Regions from separate parts of the Homo sapiens genome. Here regions 2, 3, 4, 5 and 6 are each linked to region 1. Evidence: fine-mapped expression QTL. A gene starts in region 1. Each other region holds a variant in brackets. All regions are shown on one strand. Distances are from middle to middle. Region 1 holds the start of CCDC92 (coiled-coil domain containing 92). Region 2 overlaps DNAH10 (dynein axonemal heavy chain 10). Region 3 overlaps CCDC92 (coiled-coil domain containing 92). Region 4 overlaps ZNF664-RFLNA (ZNF664-RFLNA readthrough). Region 5 overlaps ZNF664-RFLNA (ZNF664-RFLNA readthrough). Region 6 overlaps CCDC92 (coiled-coil domain containing 92).

The links.
Region 2: its variant is fine-mapped to the expression of CCDC92 in tibial artery (GTEx, PIP 0.98).
Region 3: its variant is fine-mapped to the expression of CCDC92 in whole blood (INTERVAL, PIP above 0.99). The same link has a PIP of 0.9 or more in nasal epithelium.
Region 4: its variant is fine-mapped to the expression of CCDC92 in whole blood (TOPMed, PIP above 0.99).
Region 5: its variant is fine-mapped to the expression of CCDC92 in whole blood (TOPMed, PIP above 0.99).
Region 6: its variant is fine-mapped to the expression of CCDC92 in whole blood (INTERVAL, PIP above 0.99).

The regions. Positions count from the first base shown.
Region 1 is chr12:123,971,020-123,975,124 of GRCh38, reverse strand. CCDC92 (coiled-coil domain containing 92) reads left to right here and starts at 2,294. Exons shown (of 5, transcript NM_025140.3): 1 at 2,294-2,596. It overlaps ZNF664-RFLNA (ZNF664-RFLNA readthrough), which reads right to left and starts at 1,910. Exons shown (of 5, transcript NM_001347902.2): 1 at 1,822-1,910; 2 at 1,105-1,239. It overlaps ZNF664 (zinc finger protein 664), which reads right to left and starts at 1,910. Exons shown (of 5, transcript NM_152437.3): 1 at 1,773-1,910; 2 at 1,105-1,239. RefSeq lists silencers at 1,342-1,571, 1,682-1,761, 1,832-2,701, 2,732-2,851 and enhancers at 2,072-2,809, 2,810-3,547.
Region 2 is chr12:123,857,949-123,861,948 of GRCh38, reverse strand. DNAH10 (dynein axonemal heavy chain 10) reads right to left here. Exons shown (of 79, transcript NM_001372106.1): 38 at 2,681-2,799; 39 at 779-937. Among named protein-coding and RNA genes, the nearest start is that of DNAH10OS, 75 kb to the left of the region's middle. The variant A/G (reference allele first, on the strand shown) is at 1,786.
Region 3 is chr12:123,937,672-123,941,776 of GRCh38, reverse strand. It overlaps CCDC92 (coiled-coil domain containing 92), which reads left to right. Exons shown (of 5, transcript NM_025140.3): 5 at 3,947-4,105. Among named protein-coding and RNA genes, the nearest start is that of DNAH10OS, 4.7 kb to the right of the region's middle. RefSeq lists enhancers at 2,727-3,227, 3,228-3,728. The variant G/A (reference allele first, on the strand shown) is at 1,688.
Region 4 is chr12:124,015,575-124,019,679 of GRCh38, reverse strand. All of the region lies in intron 2 of ZNF664-RFLNA (ZNF664-RFLNA readthrough), which reads right to left. Among named protein-coding and RNA genes, the nearest start is that of ZNF664-RFLNA, 44 kb to the right of the region's middle. The variant A/C (reference allele first, on the strand shown) is at 1,712.
Region 5 is chr12:124,039,255-124,043,359 of GRCh38, reverse strand. All of the region lies in intron 2 of ZNF664-RFLNA (ZNF664-RFLNA readthrough), which reads right to left. Among named protein-coding and RNA genes, the nearest start is that of ZNF664-RFLNA, 68 kb to the right of the region's middle. The variant C/T (reference allele first, on the strand shown) is at 1,871.
Region 6 is chr12:123,946,374-123,950,478 of GRCh38, reverse strand. The region is part of intron 1 of CCDC92 (coiled-coil domain containing 92); the gene reads left to right. Among named protein-coding and RNA genes, the nearest start is that of DNAH10OS, 13 kb to the right of the region's middle. The variant C/T (reference allele first, on the strand shown) is at 2,319.

The DNA.
Region 1 (4,105 bases):
AGAGCAGGCCATTTACAGAAAAGAAAACCGAGGTTTGGTGTGATTCAATGTCCTCCCCAAGGTCACACAACTTCTAACTGCTAGAGTCAGAACTACCATAGGGGAGGGGTGGCTGCTTCCACATATCAATTTCTTAACCAAAAGAGAACTTCATCATAAATGCCGAATCTCGATAATTAGCGTAGATCTGTGCTCCTATCACCGAAATTTCATCTCATCAGAGAACCACCACCAGCAAAAAAGCTGTTTTAAAGTTAAAACTTAAACTGCTATCAATTTGGGAAATGGCTAAACCATGATATACTGAAACTATGGAACATGGTGCAGCAGTTGTTAAAAAATGACTTGAAGCATTACATGCTAACATTGAAAGTTACGGTGCAACAGTCCTTGTTAAAGCAGTCAAAAATGATGTTAAGTGCACACACGTAAAAGTACTCCAAAAGATCTAGAAGGATAAACACCACACACATAATAGTCGGCATCCCTGAAGACAGAGGTTGATAGTCAAAGACAAAATGCCATCTCTGTGATATGCTGTTTTTACAAAGAAAATGTACTACTCTGCTAATTTAGAATTAATTTTTAAATTTTTAATTAACCTGCGGGTTGAACAAGGTCAATTTCCTGCTCTAAAAAACTATGCGTCTATGAAGGAAATAGGAGCCCTCTCTAAATAAGAAGCCAAAATGCCTAAAAACCGTTCCAGCCTGTGAAAACAATAAACTGTAAATATCAGAAAACGTTCCTTGAAGAAGGCAATAGCTCAGAAATCTTTTTTCGGTATCTGGTCTCCTTTGTTGCAATAAGACAGCCCGTAAGCAATCTAGCAACCAGAACAGTTCAGTTCGGAGCAGGCTCCCGGGGAGATTTAGTTGTTAGAGTTCGGCAAGAAAGGTTTCACAAAGGAGCTGAGTTCTGGGGGAAATGAGAGGTGATGTGGCGGAGAGATGGATCCGGACGGGAAAATGTCTGGGAGGGGGTATACGGAGTTCATGAGAAGCCGGGGACAGTGAGAAAACTGCAGTCGAGTCCTGGAAGGGGTGAGAACGCCTGCGGAGGCGGGAGTCAGAGGGAAGTGGACAGCGCCGGCAGCCGGTTTACCTGGGTGAGAATCCGGCCCTTGTTGTGGTCAAACAATGGAGGCGTCCGGCGGCAGCAGCCTTCTGCGCTGGGTGCGCGAGGGGTTCCTCATCACCTGAGCGGGATGCTCGCCTCCTCTGCCGGACGCAGGGCGCCCTGAAAAACACACAGCACCCCATGCAGCCGGCTCCTCCGCAGCCGCCCGGCTCCCCGGTCCCCTGGCGCGGCCATGACCGCCTCTCCCGGGACCCGCCTGGAAGGGCTCCAAGACGCGGCTCCACGGGCGACGAGGGCGGCAGCGCTCCCCCTTCCCTCGGCTCCAACAACAATGGAGCCTGGCTCGGGAGTCCGGCTCCCGAGGGGCCTCGCCCGGCCTCGCCCTGCCCGCTGCCCAGCCCTCGCTCGCACCGGCCGCCATCTGCGCCCCCCGGCCCCGCTCCCCCGCACTGCGGGCCCGCGGCCGACCGCCCGAGGCCCGAGGGGCGGCTTCTCAGCCCGGGACCCGCCAGGCTGCGCGGAGCCGCTCTGACCTTCCCCGCCATCCCGAGGCCCATCCTCCGGGATGGGTTGTTTTTCTTTTCTTTAAGCCACTCCACCTCCTTCCCACCCCCAGCCCGCTCCCTGGCCCCCGGCCCCCGCCTCCCTCCGGGAAAGAAAGAAAGACTGCAGCCCGGCCGCCGAGAACTCACTCCAAGTGAGGGGAGTCAGCGCCCCAGGCCGCGGGCGCCGCGCACCCACCTCCCTCTCCTCAGGGACACCTCACAGGTGCGCCTCCGAGCCGCGCGCGCGCGCGCTCCGCACACCCAGACGCCTCCGGGGGACAGCGCGCGTGCGCACGCACGAGGCCGGGGAAGCCCCGGGGGAGCGGGGGCCGCACGCATGCGCGGCCACCCGGCCCGCGCCCCCACCGCCCGCCTCCGCCCCCGCCCCCCAGCCCCGGCCCGGTCGGGCCCGGCCATCCCCCACCCCAGCGCCCGGCGCGCGCGCTCCCGCTCGCCTCCCTCGCTCCTCCCCGCGCCCCCCCCTCCCTCGGGCCGCGTTACCCAGGGCAACCGCAGTGCGGCCGCACCTGAGCTGTGCGCCTGCGTCCCGCGGGCCCGACCCTCCCTTCCCCTCGGCCTTCGCCCCTGCCCCGCCACAGCCGGGCGGAAGGGGGCGTAGCCCCGCCTCGCCAAGTGAATATCGGCCCGCCGCCCCCGCCCAGCCCGGCAGACACAGGCCCGCCGCCGCGCCGGCGCCTAGCCCGCCGGGTCAGCGCGGCCAGGCCTCGCCGCCGGCCCCGCTCCCAGGGTGCACCGCGGCTAGCGCTGGGGTGGGAGCGGGCGAGATGCGCCGGGCGGGCGGTGCCCACTGACCTCCCTCGGCGGCCCGGCCCGGGCAGCGCCCGAGCCCAGGCAGCCCCGCCCGCCGCGCCCCGCCCAGCCCATGGGCCACGGGCCCCCACCGCCGCCCGCCGGGAGGACCGAGCCTAAGAGGGCAGCCGCCTGAAGGAACGCGACGGCGGCGCCCGCAGGTGAGGCGGGGCCCGGGGTGTGTCGAGTCCGGCCCCGCTCACCTGGCAGCGCCGGCGGGGGCGGAGGGGCCGGGCAGGGGCGGAGGGGCCGGGCAGGGACGGGAGTTCGTGGCGAAGACTTTAAAAACCCTCCCCGCCGGGAGACGGGGGACGGGGTCCTCCTGCCCCACCTCCGGGGCTTGGGAGCCACGTTAGCTCCCCCAGGGGCAGGGGTGGCCCCGGGCGAAGGCAACTCGGGAGACGGCGGAGTCGGGGAAAGAGGGTCCCTGAGGCTCGGCGACCCCCGCGCCCGCCCCCGCGGGGTCTGCCGGCCCTTTCTGGGGAGGGGGCTCCCCGGCCCGGGCTCCAGTCCAGGGTGCGGACCGGCCGCGGCGCGCGCCCACCCCAGTGCCAAGGGGGAGGAGAGGCCGGTCCCGGGGCGCTCCTGTCTGCCCCGGGGTGGGATCGCAGGGCGAGGGATCCGCATTGCAGGTGCACCAGGAGCGCCCCGGGGCCTAGCCCGGCTTTGTCTGGGATGCTGTGGGGAGGAGGCCGTCTGAATCCACATCGCCTTTTTAAATGCTTGTTACCACCCGGGGAACCTTAGAGACCCTCCCTGACAAGTTGTATCGCCTCCCGTCCTGGTAGCCTTTCCGTAAGTACACTACCTTGCCAGCCCCTTCCTGAAGCTTTGATGCGGCTTTAGTTTACTCTGAGTAACGATTTGCCTGTGATTCGTGAAACGGAGCAGAATGCACAAACGCAGCAGAGCTCCAGGCTTGGCTACTGGGCTGCCGTCTGCTACGGCGAGTGAGTTTCTCTAACTTAGGTTTTCATGCTGACCTGTATTGTTTCATTTCAAGTTTTGGTATTTAGCAGTACGATCTAGTCCACTAAGGAAAATTAGGCTGCCAGAGAGAAAATATAACCGCGCTCTGTAGCTTAGGTTGCAGTAGTCGGTTTTATAACAAAATGCAAGCTACCACGCTGTAATACTTTAACATATTACGCAGTTCCAGAAACCTGTAAGAGTATTAAAACTAGGATTGCCATTTTAAAACTTTTACGTTTGAAATTTATTTAAAGAGCATTGGTATTGATAAAACGACTTTTCTTTTTTTTTTTTTTTGCTCATCAAGAATTCCCATGCATTTTCTCGCTATTGCATTGTAAGGAAAAAGATGCTAACGTTTAAAGTGGCTTTTACCTCCAAAGATGTTTTGAAATGTATGTAATTCTTTTGGCTAACTGTTCATCTTATGTGAAATATGCTTGGAAGAAGGCTTTAAAACTCGTGATTATATATACGGGTATGCGTACATATCCATACACACCACTGAAAAATCTTAAAATAGTTTTGTTACTCCTCTGCGTATTATAATTACTCAGTAAATTTAGTTTAGGTACATTTAAGATCTAAAGTACAGGACAATTATTTGTGTGAGATTTTTACTGTGACACATTTTAAATACATCGGTCTAACAAATAGGGTTTTTTTGAAATTAGATATTTTTATTAACTCTTTAAAAA
Region 2 (4,000 bases), 110 kb after region 1:
CGAACTGCTCAAAATTAAAGAATGCCAAAAACAAGACAACGGAATTCAGCGTGGAATCCTGGGTTCATCCAGAATCAGGGGAAAAGCGCTAAGAAGCTGTTTTAAAAGCCATGAGTTGGGACTTTGGACTCTTGTTATTTAAGGATTTTATTTATTATTAATGGGATTTGATTAGAACATAAAATCAGAACCATTCCTGAGTTTAGCAAAGAGATATTATAGGACCAACTAAAAGCTTTTTACCTTACACACCCTCAGAGCATTTCTGTACTTGGCCTCACTTGGCCTTTGCCATGGCATGTGGTGATGTCATCAGGGCACCATCAACCACGTCTACAGATGGAAAGCCGTGGCTCAGGAGGGCATTCCTGCACTTTCCATGGCCCTTTGCTACCTTTCCTTGACTTACCTTGCCATAGAACGTGGTGATCAGGCAGCTTGATGGCGGCTGTGTTTGAGAACTTAGAGTCACACAGATCAGGGCCAAATCCCTGGCCTTGGGCCACATTTCTGACCTTTTCTAGGCCTCAGTTTCCTCTGTGGTAAGCTGGGAACAATCCCGGTACCTACCACATTGCATCACTAAGACAACTGAGGTCACACATAAAAAGCACTAAGATTGGACTGCGCACTTCCGAAGCACAGCCTCCAAGACTGGACTCTAAGTCTGTTGAAATCCAAGCATGAAGCTACAATGTATAGTCCTGCCACCGTTTTTAATGTTGAGCTAATTAACATTAACTAACCCAGGCTCTTTCCTACCTACAAAGATACTCACTTTCGCTCCTTCTTGTCTGTTGGCTTGTTGATTTCCCTGAAGATGTTTGACAACACCCCATCTGTCCAGTCTCGGGTGGTTGGGTCCAGGATGCCGTAGAGTTCTATGACACTCACGGCTTTGGGGTTCAGGATGTACAACTTTGTCGTCAGCCCAAGCCTAAATCAAGAGAGGCTTTAGCCATGGTTCAAGACAACTAAATGCATGAGGAAAACAGTCTGGGTTCCCTCTATGAGGAATTAGATGTTTTGACTTTAATCCAAAATTGAAAATGCAACCCATGCAAACTCTTCACTGGGCTTCCCTTCACTGTTAGTGCTTTCTTCTAAATATAAAGCAACCACATTTCACCAAAAATGTGGCCACAGCACAAATGAAGTCTGAACTAGAAGCACAGCTTTGCCTCTGGAGGGCACCAAGAAGCTAACTTTCATGTATATTTCATATTTATGCATATTACATATTCATATATATGACATTTAAGTAAATATCTCAGAATTAAGGGCGTATAGGAGACCACACTCAGTCATCCACGATAATAACAAGGCTTTGGACTACTAATGTTCAATCCTCCTTATCTACAGAACAACAGCTGCTCTGTTGACTTCATGAATCAAGCAGACAGGGCATTTCTCACCACAGTGCCTGTAAATCCCTGCAGCACTAACTATAGGATTAATTCATCTATAGAGAACAAAACTTCACACACTCCACAGTTCACAACCAACGAATCAGTAAATCATAATGTACATGCTATATTACACATGCATACAACTGTGTGATAGTTCTATAAACTTACAATGAATGAATTAAAGAATGAAATGCAGATGGCCACGGCACAGCCCACTTAGAGTCAGTAAGCCACTGTCGACTGGTTTTCTCATATGAAACATATGAAGAAATAATGGGAACATATGACAGACACTTACTCTTTAGATTTTATAGACTGCCTAGAAATGTTTAAGTCACAGAAACTTTGGCTTGATTTAGATTTTTGCCGGGCTATC[A/G]GCATCCACGGAGGTCTTTCTGGAATCTAGTTATTGCTTAGAAGAGAAGTGAGGAGTCAGGAATCCACTTTCAGTAGAAGGCTTTCAATTCACTGCAGGCTTTTATGACATACTCTCCTTTTTTTTTTTTTTTAGAGAGAAGGTCTCACTCTGTTGCCCAGGCTGGTGTGCAGTGGCACAATCCTAGCCCACTGCAGCCTCAAATTCTTGGGCTCAAGCAATCCTCCCTCCTTAGCCTCCTGAGTAGCTGTACTACAGGTGCACATCACCACACCCAGCTAATTTTTTTTTAATGTGGAGACGGAGTCTCATTATGTTGCCCAGGCTGTTCTCAAAATCCTGGACTATGGGATCCTCCCACCCAGGCCTCCCAAAGTGCTGGGATTACAGGCGTGAGCCACCATGCCTGGCTCCTTTACGATCTTCAATGTGGGAGTGTACGATCACTTTTTCCTTCGTGAAGAATTGCCCCCGAAGGGCTAGCGATTATAAGGCACCCGGGGAGGTGACATTCGTTTTCTGGCCACTGCGAAACCACAGCAGTACTGCATAAGGTGAATCCTGACTTACTTTAAGGAAGCAATTTGGACCCCAAGAAACTATGACTTACATTCATTTTCAAAATATCCTTATAAGATAGTTTGTGAAATTCTCATTTCACAAATGAACCTATTCACCATCTGATGCACAAGCGGGTTGCTATTTTGCATTCTAAAATATCTTAACTAAGTCTGCAATAAAGTCAGTAAAAACACGCTGAGTCGAAAGGGGTGTGTATTACAAATTTACCCTCCCAGGAAATCAGAGAGCAAAGTGGGACTTGGTAATACTGGCACCAAACATATACTGTGAGCCCCTGTGGCAGCCAGGCCCTCCCTACGGAGGTCATACTCACTTGGTCTGGGCCTGACACAGAGTGTTAATGACGACGGACTTGCCCCCTCTGGTGGGCCCCACCACCATCGTCGTGTGGCGGGTTAACATGGTCTCGAACATTTGAACCACTTTATCCACCTGCGGGACAAACAATGGCAGCTGGGCTAAAACATTATCTTTTTTCTGACGCAGTTTTATTGCGATACAACACACACGCCATACAATTTACCTTTGAAAGGGTACAAGTCAATGGTTTCCAGTATATTCACAGAGTTGTGCAACCATCCCCATGAGCAATTTTAGAACATTTTTATCACCCCTCCCCACAAAAAACCCTGTACCCATCTCTCCCAATCCCCTTTCCCCCAGCCCCTGGCAACCACTCATCTACTTCCTGTCTCTACGGATTTGCGTATTCTGGGCATTTCATGGAAATGGGATCCTAGAATGTGTGATCTCTCACATCTGGCTTCTTTCGCTTAGCATGTTTTCAAAGCTCATCCATGTTGTAGCACGCGTGCTGCATTCCTTTCTATGGCCAAAATATATCCCATGGGATGGACAGACCACATTCTGTTTCAGCAGTGGATCCATCAACTGATGGATGTTGGGTTGTTCCCACTTTTTGGCTATTATGAATAATGCTGCTCCGGACATTCATGAACAATTCTGAGCGGACGTTCGTCCTCATTCTTGGGTAGATCCCCAGCAGTGAAATTGCTGGGTCTTATGGTAACTCTCGGTTTAACCTGTTGAGGAACTGCCAGGCTGTTTTCCAAAGTGGCTGCACCATTTTATATTCCTTCCAGAAAACACATCTTTTTCAACAACCAACTCCAGAGAAAATCAGGGTCAGGAAAAGCACAGAAAGCTCTCGTCCACGGCCGGTACCCGGTGCCCACTGCCCAGGCCTGAGGTCTCCGGGGTAGCCTGACACCCTGAAGCTGCCCGACCCGAGGCAACCCCCCAGGTCTGGAGGCTCTGGGCATTTACACTCTCAGCAGGACTCTGCCAATCAATACGTGTTTGGCTTAATGACAACATATACAACTTACAGGCTTCAGAGGATCCAAATCCTATCCCTGCAATATCTAATTTAATTTTTTTTTAAGTGTGACTCAGGAGAAAAAAAAGGTGAGGTGAGGAAAGAACCTCTGATGGTTGATGCCTCAAAACAAAATATTTGAGTCACCTGATCACATTGTGTGAAAAAAAACTATATATATAAAATTTAGCCTTAAAAAGGAAGAAATTCTGACACATGCCACAACATGGATAAATGTTGAAAACACTGTTAGTGAAATAAGCCAGACACAAAAGGACAAAAATTACATGATTC
Region 3 (4,105 bases), 33 kb after region 1:
AAGAAAAGAGGAAGCTAGTCATGAGAGGGTCAGGAGAGTTTCCAAATAAGGAAGAGCATGCACTATGGTCCAGGGCTCGCTCAGCCCTGCGCAGGCGTGCCGGGGCAAGGCGGAGCAGCTACACTGGAACATATATAGAGATATACATAGAGCAAGGAAATGACAAGCTCTTTATGGTTTCAAGAAACTTTGAAGAACTTCTCCATTCCCCACAATGCCTTTTTCTAAACAGGCCTCACAATGGCAGTTACTATTCATGAGAGTGTCCAGTTCCTTGTAAAAGACACAGACCATTTCCACCAAGCCTTAGTGGATTACCGAGCACTGATTTTTTTCCATTTGCATTGCTCATATTACAGCCTCCTGAGTGCGCCACCCAGGAGCCCAGACATCTTTTTGTCTGCGTGTGGTAGGGAAGGCGCCGTGGGCTTCTTGGGGTGGTGGAATGGGAGCCTGTCCTCAGAAGTCTCCCTGTGGAGGGATACCAGGGACCTCCCCCGAAGCCCTGGGACTGGGAGCTGGGCCTGTGGGAATGCAGAGGAACAGGATTTCAGCCTGACACTAGGGACCTCCAGCGTCCACACCTGCCAGCACTGAAGCCTTGGGAAAGGAGCTACCCGTGTCATGGAAGCCAGGGCGTCCTCGCTCCCTGTCCTCTCCTGGCCCAGGCTAATCTGAAGCAGCATAGTTTTGCCCTGTGGCCTCTCCAGTCACGGTTCTCAACCTGAGGTCCCAAGGCCACCTGCCCACCCACCCACCCACCTGATGTAGTACTCCCAGCAGCAGCAGGGTCTCACAGCAAGGGCTGTGTCTTAGGGGAGGCAGTTTCAAAAGCCTCTCAGGTGGTTCCAGTCGGGGCGTCTCCCCTCCCAGTGGTGAAAATCATTGTTTTACATTAGTGCACCCAAAACTGCCCAATTCCAAGCAGTTTCGGGACCCAGGGTACAGCATAGACTCTTGGCTTCCCTCCCCTGGGGGCTGTGACCCCAGAAGTCTGGGCGGGCCCAGGGAGTGCGCAGGTTTAGAAGCGTTGCAGTGCCCTGACGCTCGGGCAGGCTCAGCAGTGCAGCGTTTGGAGACCAGCAGCAGTTGGCTGCTGTCAGCTCAGTGTGCACCAAGCTTTCATGGGAAGACTGAAATTTCCAGAAAGGGGGTACGTACAGAGGAGGAGGTGGAGTGGAGCTTTCTATAAAGAGCAAGAAATTGGCAAAACAGGAGGTGCTGATTCCTGGGAAGGACAGTCACTGAAGCAGCTCTCCAGAGCTGGGGATGGAGGAGCAGTCGTACCAGCTCCTTCCCACAGGACGGCCCACTCAAGTCGGGGCCGGTAAACATCAGCCCGGAGCCAAGGCTGCACCCTGGAGGAGGAGGCAGCACAGCTAGATGACTCTCAAGGAAGGATGATGAGGAGGATGTCTATCCAGGAGGAGCTTCTCTCAGGATGCTGTGGCGAAAAGAACCAGAGTGATGCTTAATGAGCCCCAGATTTGGGCCTCTGCTCTGACTCGGAGGGGCTGTGTGGCCTTGGGCAGGTTCTTTGACATCTCTGAACCTGCATCTTCATCTGACAGGTGCCCCACAAATCCAAGTCCCCAGTCCGACCACCAGGGCCCTCTGCCTTTGTGGGCTGCCCCTCACAGGACATGAGCAAAGCCCAGGGACAGCCTTGTTCCTGAATGTTCCAAAC[G/A]TCCATCAGCCTTTTGCAGCACTGCCTGGGGGAAGAAAAATCCCAGGATGCTCACAGCAGGCCAGGGATGTGGTTGAAGGTCTGAGGTTGCAGCCCTTCCTCGGAAGGAGCCCAAGGCCCACTGTCCACCCGAGTGTGGGCTGAAAGCAAAGGCCCTGCGACAGGCATGGGTTGTTGTCCCACAGGCCCTGGGGGAAGGACAGCGGGTACCAGGCCCAATGCCGTGCCCAGGTCAGCATTTCAGGTTGCAGGGGTTCAGCCCAGGTGGCTGGGCTCCTGGGTCTTACAGTGTCTACAGAGTCGTGTGTGTGTCTCTGTCCCTCTCTCTACCTCTGAAACTGTGTTTTAGGATCTATTTTCCTTTTGGCAAAAGAAGAAACCTCATGAAAGGTAGTACTGCATGCATCCTTTTTAGGGAGGTCATTTGCTGACATTATACCTGCACATACACACACAGACACATGGTTTTTAAAACTAGAAACTTGCAATGGTTCAACTTAAAATTTTTCAACTGCATGGGGCAATACCCATTCAGTACACTCCTCGACTTACCATGGATATGTCCAGATAAACCCATGGTAAGCTGAAAATATCGAAAACACACTTTTGACTTACGGTATTTTCAACTTACATTGGATTTTTCGGGACATGACCCCATGCTAAGTCGAGGAGCGCCCATCACCTGCAGCGAGCTTGTAACATGCAAGTGTCCTGCACAAGACCAGTCCAGTCAGCTGTGGGCCCTCAAAAGCTCAGAGTCTGGCGGCGGGACATGCTGCAGAGCTGCTGCTAGCTCAGGCAGGTGGGAAAATTCAAAGCAAGACAGACAGAAGCCCGGGAAAGACGTCCAGTGGCGTCCAGTGCCTAGGCAGGCCCTGGGTGGTGGAGTTGGTACAGGGAAACTGGGCGTGCAGGTCTGGAGTTAGGGCAAGGACAGAGGGTACAATAGAGACAGAACAAGAGGTGGTGGCTTGGGGAGAGTGATGGAAGCTTTGATTTATGTGGGAGCAGATAACATTCAGGACAGATTGAGGAACTGGAAGGCATCTGGCAGTTTGGGTTTTATTAGGCAGTGAGGAACCATTTTGAACAGAGGACAAGAATATTTAGGGGGTGACCAAGCTTCCTAAATACAGGATGGGCTGAAACGAAGACCAGAGAGGAGGTGGGACCAAGGCCGGCTGGAGGAGCAGGGAGGGGGCAGCACTGAGCAGCCAGCAGAAAGGCACAGTCAGGGAGGGGAGGCCAGGGATGGCGACTGCATCCAGTTTCCCTGGGAGAGTCAAGATGTGGGAAGCAGAGCAGCTATCTGGACTTGAGGGTGTGTCTGACGGACACTCACTTGGAGAAGTGGTGCTCAGGAGACACTGAATCGGGAGCTGATGCTCAAGTTGAATTCCAGACCAGCAAGGAAGAGTCTAGAAAGAACTTCCCAGGGGCCAGGCAAGGAGGATGGCCAGCCAGCCAGCGTTAGGAGGAGTAGGATGGTGACCCAGGGTTTAGAGCCAAGGGTGCTATGTGAGGTGACCAGGGACTGCAGGTCACCAGAAGAGCAGGAGAAGGAGGTGGCTGGTGTTTGCTGAAGGACTGGGTGAGGGCAGGCACCCAGGGACAGCAAAAGGAGGCAGAGGCCCGAAGTGTTAGGGCAGGGGCAGGGAGGGACCAAGGGTAAGAGCCACAGAGGCGAGACAGCTCACTCTCTGAGCAGGAAGTGGGAAAGAGTCTGTGTGTGTGTGTGTGTGAGAGAGACGGGGGTAGGGGGGTGAGAGAGGCGGCCAGCGGCAGAGCAAAGGTGACAGCCCCACACCTCTTCTCCTCTAAACATCAGAATTTTAATTCAATAGACATGGATAATTCTTTTTACATTTGAGTTTCAAAACAGTACTTTGAATGTAGCAGGCATTCCATAAATGCCATCTGAGCAGACAGAGGGATTTGCGGCCAGTTGAATCCTAAGTGTTTGCTGAGGTCTGATACTCTGCAATTGCCTGTTTTAAGTTCAGCATCTTTAAGGTTCAGAGACATTCTTTTATGCAGTAGGCCAGAGAACTAAGAGCCGGAAAGGGCCTCTGAGATGCCCCGATCTCCCCACCTCGGGGAGGGGAGGGGTCTTTCCAGAGCCCCCACAGCCCTGCCTTCTGCATGGCCCCCACAGCCTAGACAGGGCCCCCACCAGACAGGTCCGCCTGCCCCATAGGCCTCACCACTCGGCCTCAGTCTAATGAGTTCTTCACCTGCTTCCTCGGCTTATTCTTGTAGGAGACGGGACTTCTAAAAGCAGTGAATTAAAGAAAAGATGTGAAGAGCTGGAAGCCCAACTGAAAGTGAAAGAGAACGAAAATGCTGAGTTGTTGAAAGAACTGGAGCAGAAAAACGCGATGATCACAGTGCTGGAGAACACCATCAAGGAGCGAGAGA
Region 4 (4,105 bases), 45 kb before region 1:
AATTTAAAAATCCTGCAGTATTTTTTCCAGCTTGTTTGACTGCTTAGTTTCATATTCCTTATCTCATAAATGAATTGAAGGCTATGAAAGTTTTTCATTTCGGCCCCATCCACAAGACGTGCCCCACAGTGCCATCTCTGCCACTCATCTCTACTACACTTGATTTCCTCTTTATTTGTAACTTGGGATGAAATGGACAGGACTTTTGGCTCTTTCTCAGTGACTTCAATTTTTTATTACATTATAGTCAGAGAATATGACCTGTGAGATTTCTACATTTTGGAATCTGGTGAGATTTCCTTTCTGGCACAAAGCATGGCTAATTTCTATGACCATTCCAAGAGGATCTGCTGCACAAAGTTCACACACAGTGGACACATCAAGTTTGGTAACAGTGTTAGTTAAATAGCCAGATCCTTCTTTGTCTAGTTGATTTTCAAATTCTGATGGGTGAGGGTTAACATATCTTGCTGTGACTGGGAATTGCTTAATTTCTTACCATGTTCTATCTTTCAAAGCTATGTTGTGAGCTAATGAAAGTATATAACTATCTTCTTGACAAATTATTCCTTTCATAAACGGACTGACAATACTACCACCAGTTGCTTTCTTTTAGCATTTCCTGATCTTTTTCAACCCCTTCACTGTCAGCCTTTTGGGTCACCCCTTTATTTTAGGTGGTCTCCCATAACCATCATATACACGTTTGTGACGTCATTTACAAATCAACTTGAAAATGTCCCTAAGTAGCTGAATTTAACCAGTTCACATTTACTATGATTAACAATATGCTTCAACTTACTCCTGCCATCTTATCCTTTCCTGTTTTTTTAATTTCTTCTCCTAATGTTTACTGGATCAAGTGAGGCAAGCAAAACACAGAGGATTCAGTTCTTTCCAGACACTGCCTGTTTCAACTATAACAATGTGGCAACAACAGCTCCAGGAAGTAGGGCTTGCTGCTCTACCAGACTCTCCCGTCATCCTCCACAGACTGTAGAAACAGGACTTACCCTTGAGACTAAGTCCCTGTGGGTCTTGACCTTATCTCAGAAAGGGGAGCGGGGGGCACACAAGGATGGAAGAGTATCAGGGGTAAAAAAAAAAAAAAAAAAAAAAGACATTTTGGGGACAGACAGGATGAAGACTAAAGAGGACTGACTTAAACAGTCAGAGATCCCAGGCAAGTGAGGTAGGACATAAAAATTAGACATGAGAGAACATGGCATTGAGCAATATGAATAGGTCTATTTGAGAACCTAAATACAACCCACACCAGTACTGGGGCCCTCACCCATTTTACAGCAAGAACTGCCTCCTCTGTAACCAAGACAGATTCAGTTGAGATCTAGTGTTTTCCATTCAGGTAGCCAATTCCGTCCACGTCCAGCCAGTCCCCTCTGAATACTCAATTGTCCTCACCTATATTCTTTTAATACACTGTTCGCAGAACTGTTGTCTTAAGCGTATGACATCGAAACTGCCACACAGCCTACCTCCTGGGCCCAGCATAACAACACATGCACATGTATCCTTCCATTTTATGCCAACGTCCTTTTCCCTCTTTCCTCACAACACAGCGTTGTGTTTTTTCCTCCGTTTATTATACCCATCATTTCCTATCCATTCCACTAACTGGAACTCTTAGGCACCCCTTTTGCCTCCCAAGATCCCCAAACAACGAGTAACCATATGCCAGCCAGTGTTCTTT[A/C]TCTCTTAGAGTCACAAACATAAGGAAAGCCCCCTTTCCTAGAAAAATGCATAGACCTACAGGTACACAAAATTCTGCACATAACTTAAAAAGGTTCTAGACCTCCCCAAAAGCCGTCTGCAGGTCTTAGGTTTTAAAATTCTGTAAATACAACACCCCCACCATAATTCATGATGCAGAGAAGACCTGGATCAGGGCCAGCAAAGAATTAAGAGGGGGAGGGAAAGTCGGTCTCTCAGCGAAGCCATATTTAGACACAGTATTTAGGAAGGTACAGAGTCTATAAAATGCATACATCCGCCTAAAAATACACAAAATCTGTATGTGCTACTTTACTCTAGAAATGCAGTTTATTTACATATGCCTAAATCTGAGCAATAAAATTGCTTTGGTATAAAGTGTCATTTTCCACCGATATTTATGACAAGTTCTTACTGGCATAAACACACACACAGCCTTGGGATCTCTGGATTTGTTCATGTGTTTTGTAATATGTTAAAATGAGAATGATAAAAAAAATTCTTAAGTTTCAACTTACTTATGATTATAAAGTTATTCTACTTCATGTACATTGAGAGTGGAAATAAAGATATCCCAGGCCTCCCTGCCCCTTAGGGGTTTGGGTAAACTTGACTCAAAACTCCATTAATTCCATGGCCTGTAGCAGCTTTTAGCTACCCTGAAGATTTCTGCATATTCTGCATATTCCTTGGAGCTTGTTCTCAGGGGCACCCTCTTCTGGCTCCTATATTTATGTGTGGTACTTACGTGTTGCCCCATTTCACCCTGGATACAGCACTCAGCCCTTCCACCAGTTTCCATAAGAAATCCACCATGCCAAACACCCCTAACTTTAGGGAAAGACTTTGTGGTCACGAAGTTTTCCTACACAAGAGCTCAGAACTTCAGACCATCCTACTCCACTGGTTCCCTGGTCCTCTCTCCCACTCCAAGTCTACCCTTTGTTTTCTTACCTCCAACTACCCCAGGAGATTCAAGTTCTCTCTCTTACCATGTGGAGCAATTCAGCCCTCTCCAGGTCCTACCCCAATTTTAGATGTCCAAACCCACCACAGAGCTCAGCAAAACAAAAAGGAATCCAAATAACATGACCTTTCTTCCTTAATAGGCAACTGGGAATAGGAATTCGTTATAGCACTAAATGCTAGGCACTTTACGTTTATTTACTTCTCCCAACATTTCCATGAATTAGATATTTTCAAAACCATTTTAAAGATGAGAAACTTGAGGTTTAGAAAAATTAAGAAAATGAATATGGTTAGAGGAAGTGCTCTATCATCTTCATTTTTCCTCTCTTCCTCTCTAATCCATAGATCTTAACTCAGCTTTGCTATTTATATATGGCTCTTGCCCTGTAGTAGTATCAACCTTTCTCATCTTTTCCTAGATTTTACCACTGAGTATATTTTCCATCTGCTTCTGATATTTGCTTTCCATTCACCTAGTTTTTCAAATTTCTGAGAATATCAGTACATTACAAAGACTGAGAAATAATTCAAAAATTTTAAGAACAGAGCCAAGAGCTAGAAGGTCCCTTGGAAGGAATCATGTCCATGCTCACACAACACAAAGTAATCCCTCTTCAATTTCTGAGATGGCCTGACGAGCTGTGCCCACATTCTCACGCAGTAGACTATCTCAATGTTGGACTCTGATGCAAAGAGTTCTTCCTATCTGCAAGAGGCAATCTGCCGTTTATTCATGCTTCCAAGTTAGAAACCATGCAGTCATTCTGGACTTATCTTGGCTCACACTCTAAATCCTAGCAGATTCACCAAGAGTGAATCCCATCACAGATGACCTACCCTTGCCCCCACCCCCCACCCCCATCAGAAGGGCTAGTTTGGGTTGCTCCCATCCCAATGGTGGAATTGCAATGCAGACTTGTCTCTCAAAGCTGGTAGACGCCACAGCCAGTCAGACTGTTGACTGCGGCACAGAACGTGGGCCCCCTCTGCTTCAGCTGACAGCACTTCACGCCTTCCCAGGCATGGGCTGCAGTCAGCAGGGGCCAGGGCAGGGCTTGGAGGAACTGCCAAGGGGCACCAGGAAGATCACAGAAAGCACCAAAATGGATCACCCAAGGAAAAGGAATTAGCTGCCAACATTTTAAGATTAAACTGTGTGTGAAAATCGAGGTTGGTGTTTTCTTAGAAGAGCTGTGGGCCTGTATTCGCCGTGAACACAGAGCCACAGCCGAGCTGAGGCAGTCCTCTCAGTGGACTGTGCTCTCTCCAGATGGATTATTCCTGACTTGAGTCATTTATTACCTGTGTGGCTGTGACCTCAGACCAAGGTGTCCTCACACCTTAGTGTGCCCGAGAAAGGCCCATTCGAGGCTTGTTGTCCAGATGTGAGTATCAACAGCACCCC
Region 5 (4,105 bases), 68 kb before region 1:
GTTCAAGTGATTCTCCTGCCTCCGCGTCCCAAGTACCTGGGATTACAGGTTCCTGCTGCCACACCCAGCTATTTTTTGTATTTTTAGTAGAGACGGGGTTTTGCCATGTTGCCCAGGCTGGTCTCGAACTCCTGACCTCAGGTGATCTGCCTACCTTGGCTTCCCAAAGTGCTGAGATTACAGGCATGAGCCACTGTGCCCGGCCTCGGTGGCCTCTCTTGACCAGTGATAAACAGGTGGCAGCAAAAGACAGGGAGAGGCCAGACTTGTGCAAACGGGCCCAGTGGAAGCACCTCTAGTGCCTAAGGCATGCATGCACTCTGTTCCTCTAATTTGGGGATGGAATCCAAAATCCCGGCCTACCTCAGTGGTTCTCAACCAGGGTAGGGGCTCCCTGACCCACGTCCCAGGAAACAAACAGCATCACTAAGAGACCCTCTGCTCACCCCGAGTGGCTTCCACACGTCACTCTCCTGAGCAGCCACGCAGGGTACTGGGCAGAGGAAGGACAAGCAGGGTAGGGGAGAGGCCCTGGCTCATCCCGCGTTGCTGGAAGGGGGCTCGTCCTTCGCCTGGTGCAGGGGTCCCTGCTTAGGGATGCAGGAACCCCTGCCAGTCTCTAGGCCAGGAGAAATGCTTGTGACAGGGCAAACATTCCGTCTACTGGTGCTCCTGGAACCTATCCTCATATTCAACGCCACAGAGATACAGTTTTCTGCTGAAAGAGTTCCGACTCAGGGTAAGACAGAATTTGGGATTAATAAGGTGACCCTAGAACACCTCCCATAGAAGAGAGATCTGTGTGGGTGGCTTCCGGTCCTCACATGGGAGAAAGACTCCATTCAACTTGAGTCCATCAGATCAACATTTCTCCGCAATCATTCATGATTAAAACAAGATAATAAAAAGAAAGGCAGAAGAAAGAATTAAAGATATTCCCTAGTGATTGTTCAATTTTACTGGTGTGCTGATGGAAATGGTGTAATCTCATTGCTGCAAGAAGCCGTATAGTTGGGGAAAGCCTCTTTTATGAATGTCAAGCATCCCTCCTATCTGGGGGAACCCCCCATTCCGTGGGGCTTGCTGTGAGGCAGGGACCCACCACCCGCTACGGCCAACGAAGGCTGAGGTACAGATAACCCAGCCCCGGGAGCTGTGGCGTAGGCATGTGGCCTCAGCCTGGAACCTGGTACCTGTGAATGTGACCTTATCTGCAAGAAGGACTTTGCAGATGTAATCAAGTTCAGATGAGGTCATACTGGATTAGGGTGTGCCCTAAATCCAGTATGACTGGTGTCCTTCTAAGAAGAGGGAAATCTGGACACAGAGACACACGCAGAAGGAAGATGGCCACATGGAGATGGAGGCAGAGATAGGAGTGAAACATCCACAAGCCCACTGAAGCTGAGGGTTGCCGCGGCCCCCGGAAGCTGAGAGGCACAAAACACATTCCTCCCTAGGGCCTCAGTGGGTACGTGCCCCTGTGGCCTTCTGGCCTCCAGAATTGTGAGGGTGAACTTCTGCTATTATAAGACACCTGGCACGTGGGCTTTGATATGGCAACTACAGGGCGCTAACACAGATGCCCACACTAAGGACCTGACCCTTGAGGCTGTGACACAGAGATCCAGTGATGGGGAGTTTCCCAGCAGCAGGACAGCACCAAAGGCCCATCAGGACAGCAAGTGTCAGAGGCTGCAGGGCCCCAGAGACCAGGACAGATTGCCCAGGGCAGTGGCCAATGTCTGATAATGGCAGGACTTATGGCGGCGTCCACATCAGCCTGTACCTGTGACCCTTGACCTGCCTAGCTGCTCTTGGTCTTACCGGTTTTACAAGCCTGACTCTCAGTCGGGCGCAGTGGCTCACA[C/T]CTGTAATCCCGGCACTTTGGGAGGCCAAAGGAGGCAGATCACTTGAGGCCAGGAGTTTGAGACCAGCCTGGCCAACATGGTGAAACCCCGTCTCTACTAAAAATACAAAAAAATTAGCTGGGCATGGTGGTGGGCGCCTGTAATTGCAGCTATTTGGGAGGCTGAGGCAGGAGAATCTCTTGAACGCAGGAGGCAGAGGTTGCAGTGAGCCGAGATCATGCCACTGCATGCCAGCATGGGTGACAGAGCGAGACTCCATCTCAAAAACAAATAGAAAAAAAATGATAAAATAAAACCTGATTCTCCATTCCAAACGCTGCCCAATATCCTTCTAGAAAGGTCCTATTCTGCTCAAGTTAGCCAGTTAATTTCTACTGTTTGCAAGCAAAATCCCTGACTGGTATAAAGCCTCATCCAAATAATTCAGAATACATTATCTATGCATACAAAAGGCCCCGGAGCTTTTTTCTGACTCTCAACTGGACATAATCGTTACATGCCTGTGAACACTCAAGCAGTGATCATCACCAGTAATTCATCAATGTTGCAATGACAGGTGATGGGTAGTTAATGACTATTGTGAAAACTGCACTTATCTCTGGGGGTTTACTTAGCTGTAAGAAGTAAGCTTTACTTCTCAAAATCAAGGTTAGAATTTCTGCAACATGGAATTTACAATATGTATCATCTATTTTGACTTTGATGCTATGCATTAAAGTGTTTTTAATAATTGGGTATATATTAAACATTTATCGACTTAACTAAAAGATATAAAGTTTTAAGAAAAATGGGTGTATTATAAAATCCCTTCAAAACACCCCAAAATGCTAATGAAATAAGAGATCAAGTAGGTAGACTGAAATAAAACTCTACAGTGTTAAAAAACAACAAACAAAATTGGAAACGAGAAGAGTGGTGCCTCAGGAGGAAATAACAGCATTGGGACACTCGGCAAGCTATGACGGAGCCAGGCAGCCCCGCACAGGAAATGCACGTTACTGCCGTGAGCACCGCCAAGAATGTGGACATCACGTTCATAGTGTGTGGCCCTCCCGGGCCCTTTGATATCAACATGCCCTCACGTTCAATAGAAGACATTTCCTGTGCATTTCACCTCTTCCCTGATCCCCAGGAAGTCCTAGGCAGGAATTCTGGCTGAATCTGCTTCCATTTCTAAATCCCATATTTGGTCAAATCCAATTATGTTGCCCCTTCAAGATTTCAATCAGAAACACTTGTATTTGAATTGAAAGGCCATAATGTGCTTACAAAGAAATATATCCATAAAAACACATTATACTTCATTAACAGTTATCTATTGACCAGGTGCGGTGGCTCACGCTTGTAATCCCAACACTTTGGGAGGCCAAGGCCGGTGGATTACTTGAGGTCAGGAGTTCGAAACCAGCCTGGCCAACATGGTGAAACCCTGTCTCTACTAAAAATATAAAAATTAGCCAGTTGTGATGGCACGTGCCTATAGTCCCAGCTACTCAGGAGTCTGAGGCAGAAGAATCACTTCAACTCAGGAGGCGGAGGTTGCAGCGAGCCAAGATCGCGCCACTGTACTCCAGCCTGGGCGAGAGAGCAAGACTCCATCTCAAAAAAAAAAAAAAAAGGTATTTATCATGATGTATATTACATTAGACAAGCTAGTTGGGGGGAAAAGAAAACCCTAAAAGTAAGTATCTATAACTTTCTGAAAGATCACTTCTGTTAATCCCTATTAAAGCCATCAAATCTTTTTCTCTAGCTAACTGAAAAAATCATCCAGGCAAAATGATACTAAATTTTTGGTTCTTATTCCCTTTTCCTGTTTCACTAGGAGCAAACAAAATCTATGTGGTTTCATTCATTTTCCTTTTTCATTCTTTCGGAGTTCTGGTCCTCCCAATAAGCTGTCCTGTGGGTGGAAATGTTTTTCAAAGAGAGGATAAGGTTGTTCTCTCCCACTGCAAACTCACCCAGTGCCCAACTGCAGGGTTGCTGAGTCAGTGGTGCAGAAAAGCAAACCACAGCTGATAGTTACCAAAGTTTCCCACAGTGGGTTCCAGGCCAAGTTGTCCAGCCTCTTTCTGAGTTAATTCTACCTCTGCAAGTGCTGTGTTGAAGATGGAATTTGTTTCCTCCGTGAATACATCCTTGTTCTGGTTTTAACATCTGTGGGTTTATATATAAGGGGTGAATGAATTTTAAAGGTTGGACGATCCCATTAAAAAGAAGTATTAACAGGA
Region 6 (4,105 bases), 25 kb after region 1:
TTGCTGGTATTACGAGCAAGAGTCATTAGTGAGTCTTTTTGCCGTATTGGGTGGTCGGCAGTGCCTTTACAGCTGTGTGATTTTCTAACGTGGACCCTCGAGAGCCAGTGGATCCAGCCTCCGTGCGAGCAGTGCTGTTCTGACGGCCTGGCCCTGTGCTCTGGACTCTGGAGGAACGCTGCTTTCCCTTCCGGGCCAAAAGGCTACTTCAGTGGGCTGTGTTTGCGTTTCCTCTGCAGTTTCAAAGTATTAGAGACTTGATGTGCACAACTTGGAAAACATCTGAATTTCTGCATGAAATTAAATCTGCCCCAGACGTCAGGATTGTCACCACATCACCTGCGGGCTAGGAGAAGCGGCAAGGCTTAGATGCATTTATTGGTTTATGTTCTCTCTTTTCATGGGATAGTGTCCTCTTTTCCCCAGAGGCGGGTTGCAAGAGCAAATGATGTAAGTAACGTGAAAGAACACTGTGCTCGGGCAAGTCAGGTGGTCCATGGATAGAATTATGTCGTCATGTTACATTAATGCCCTGAGAGGAAGGGATAGCACTTTGGAATGAAGATGGAATTCGGCTTGAGCTGTTGATAGGGCCCCTTGTCTTCACGCTGCTGGAGAGCATACTCGGCGAGGCCGGGCCTTCCTCAGACACGTTGACACTAGGAAATGACGGCAGTGCGCTTCCCCATCCAGGAAGCTGTCTTGCCACGTCTTCAGAGCCTATCTCTATAGGATTTGGAATGAAAAGCCTTTTTTGAGTATTAACTTTCTGAACAAGTAGAGTGAACAGTAAATTAATTTACCTAGTGGATTTGCCATAGGAAAAACTGTACGTGTGGCTTAACCTTTGAGCCCTGATCAAGGTAACCTATTCAGCAGGACTTTGACCCTCGAGGTACCCATTTGCATTGCTTCTGCTGGCGTTCTGTGGGGAGAAAAACTAGCAGAGCTGTGCAAAGTCACCTGGGTGGGGCTGGCCCTCTGGCAGCCGTGACCAGGCCCTGAAGTGATAGTCAGTTGGAGCCCCATTTTCTGCAGCTGTGGGCAGCATCTCCAAGGAGGGAAGAAGACCAATGTCCTGGCCTTGCCGCCTTTGGTTGAGCAAATACTGTAAGATTGCGGATGGCTCTCAGCAACGCTTAGGAACAAAATTGGATTTGCCTCAGGACGGACTGCTGCAGTACAAAGAGCACACAATTTGTAGCGTATGCCCTTTTGACACAGAAAGTGCAAGCGTTTTGCCAAACGGGCTGGATGAGCTGCCCTCCATTCCTGGCTGACACACAGCTAAGATGGGGTGAGTGCCCTTACTCAGCAGGCGGCGTTATTCATCTGCAGCAGACGCCCTGCCTTTCTCCTTTCATCTGCCACGCTGACCCTTTTAGGGATCTGTCTTGAATGCTCCTTCATGTTTCTAAAGCATCTCTGATACTGAATTAAGCCTCTTGGGACCAACTCCATTTCTCCCTCTGAATTATGTGCATCTCCCGGCTGGGTCTCCTCAGCCTAAACAGGATGCCTCGGTGGCTTCAGTCATGTCACAGTACTGGGAGCATGACATCATCACAATGATTACCTCTCTTCAGTAGTGAAGGATCGCAATGGAAAACACCACTGTCTTTTCAGCCGTGAAAACTCTTTTGCCCTCAGAAAGCCAGTGATATTGTTACTCTTTTGAGCTGATGAGAAAATAATTGAGTAATCTGGATGCCATTTGGAGATGTGTTTTGTTTCCCTGGCCCCAAGTGGACCTGCCTTATTCAGGAATATCCTAACAGCTGTAGAATGCCCTGCACAGATGGCGTCTCCATGTCAGGGCCTTTTCAGTCAGCACAGAGTGTGGAAGAAGGGGAGAGCGACAGTCAGTGAAATGCCCCAGGCCAGGAGACCCTTGTCCCCCACTGTGAGGGCTCCGAGTGGCTCACCAGCGCTCACTGTGGAGCTCTGCGCGTTACATGGTCACACTCTCCCTGCTCGCCTGCCGTTTCTTCTCCAGGCTGTCTGCCCATTATAATGGGACGCTTTAAGGACGCTTTTGTATTTCTGCAGTTAACAGAGTGGATTAATGACACACAGCGTTGTTATAATTCAAAGTTGCTGATTGACCAAGGCAGTTAGAGTATGAATACTTACTAAATCATATTTAAATTTGTTACAAATGAAATGTAATACCACACTATGATAGAGATGGCTGCTGATAACATTTGTACTCCATTCCCCTCTGCCCCCGTGGGAGAGCGTAGAAGAAAATACTGACATCTACATATAGGCACATCCCATTTTGTGCCATCATGGCGGGTGAGGTGGTCATCTCATTT[C/T]GGGATGTTTTAGTATATCCCGTTTTCTTTGAGCAAGGTGTGCCTGTAAAGGAAGTGTGTCCGGAATTGGTGGGTTCTTGGTCTCACTGACTTCAAGAATGAAGCCGCAGACCCTCGCCGTGAGTGTTACAGCTCTTAAGGTGGCGCATCTGGAGTTTGTTCCTTCTGATGTTCGGATGTGTTCGGAGTTTCTTCCTTCTGGTGGGTTCGCGGTCTCACTGGCTCAGGAGTGAAGCTGCAGACCTTCGCAGTGAGTGTTACAGCTCATAAAAGCAGCGTGGACACAAAGAGTGAGCAGTAGCAAGATTTATTGCAAAGAGCGAAAGAACAAAGCTTCCACAGTGTGGAAGGGGACCCGAGCGGGTTGCCACTGCTGGCTCGGGCAGCCTGCTTTTATTTTCTTATCTGGCCCCACCCACATCCTGCTAATTGGTAGAGCCCAGTGGCCTGTTTTGACAGGGTGCTGATTGGTGTGTTTACAATCCCTGAGCTAGACACAAAGGTTCACCACCTCCCCATCAGATTAGTTAGATACAGAGTATCCACACAAAGGTTCTCCAAGGCCCCACCAGAGTAGCTAGATACAGAGTGTCGATTGGTGCATTCACAAACCCTGAGCTAGACACAGGGTGCTGATTGGTGTGTTTACAAACCTTGAGCTAGATACAGAGTGCCAATTGGTGTATTTACAATCCCTGAGCTAGACATAAAGGTTCCCCACGTCCCCACCAGACTCAGGAGCCCGGCTGGCTTCACCCAGTGGATCCCACACCGGGGCTGCAGGTGGAGCTGCCTGCCAGTCCCGCGCCGTACGTTTGCACTCCTCAGCCCTTGGGTGGTCGATGGGATTGGGCACCATGGAGCAGGGAGCGGCACTGGTCGGGGAGGCTCGGGCAGCACAGGAGCCCATGGAGTGGGTGGGAGGCTCAGGCATGGCAGGCTGCAGGTCCCGAGCCCTGCCCTGCGGGAAGGCAGCTAAGGCCTGGTGAGAAATTGAGTGCAGCGCTGGTGGGCTGGCACTGCTAGGGGACCCAGTACACCCTCTGCAGCTGCTGGCCTGGGTGCTAAGCCCCTCATTGCCCGGGGCCGGCAGGGCTGGCAGGGCCGGCCCGCTGGCTGCTCTGAGTGCGGGGCCCGCCAAGCCCACGCCCACCCAGAACTCCAGCTGGCCTGCAAGCGCCGCCGCACGCAGCCCCGGTTCTGCTTGCGCCTCTCCCTCCACACCTCCCTGCAAGCTGAGGGAGCGGGCTCCGGCCTTGGCCAGCCCAGAAAGGGGCTCCCACAGTGCAGCGGTGGGCTGAAGGGCTCCTCAAGTGCCGCCAAAGTGGGAGCCCAGGCAGAGGAGGTGCTGAGAGCAAGCGAGGGCTGTGAGGACTGCCAGCAGGCTGTCACTTCTCAGAAGCACCTAAATAGGAAGCCCATGGAAACAAAAGCTTTTCAACCCTGAAGCCCTTACATTCCTCTGGCACCACAGCTGCACTCAACAGACTGGCACCAGGCCCATTCGTGGGCCTCCAGGGTGCCAGGCACTGTGCTAGGGCTTAGGGTGCAGCAGTGAACAATCTGGAGTCTGTGCGAGGAGGCGGGAAACAGACCCACACTTACAGACCCTCACAGAGACACAAAGACTAGAACTGGGGACAGGGTGGTAATGCACCCGAGTCTGGGGGCCAGGGCTTCCGGGAGGAAGTAAACTTGTACTGAGACCTAAAGGATAAGTAGACAGTGGAGACCCAGGAGAGGTGGGTGGGAGAGAGGCCTAAGAAGAGTGTTCTGGGCAGAGGAGG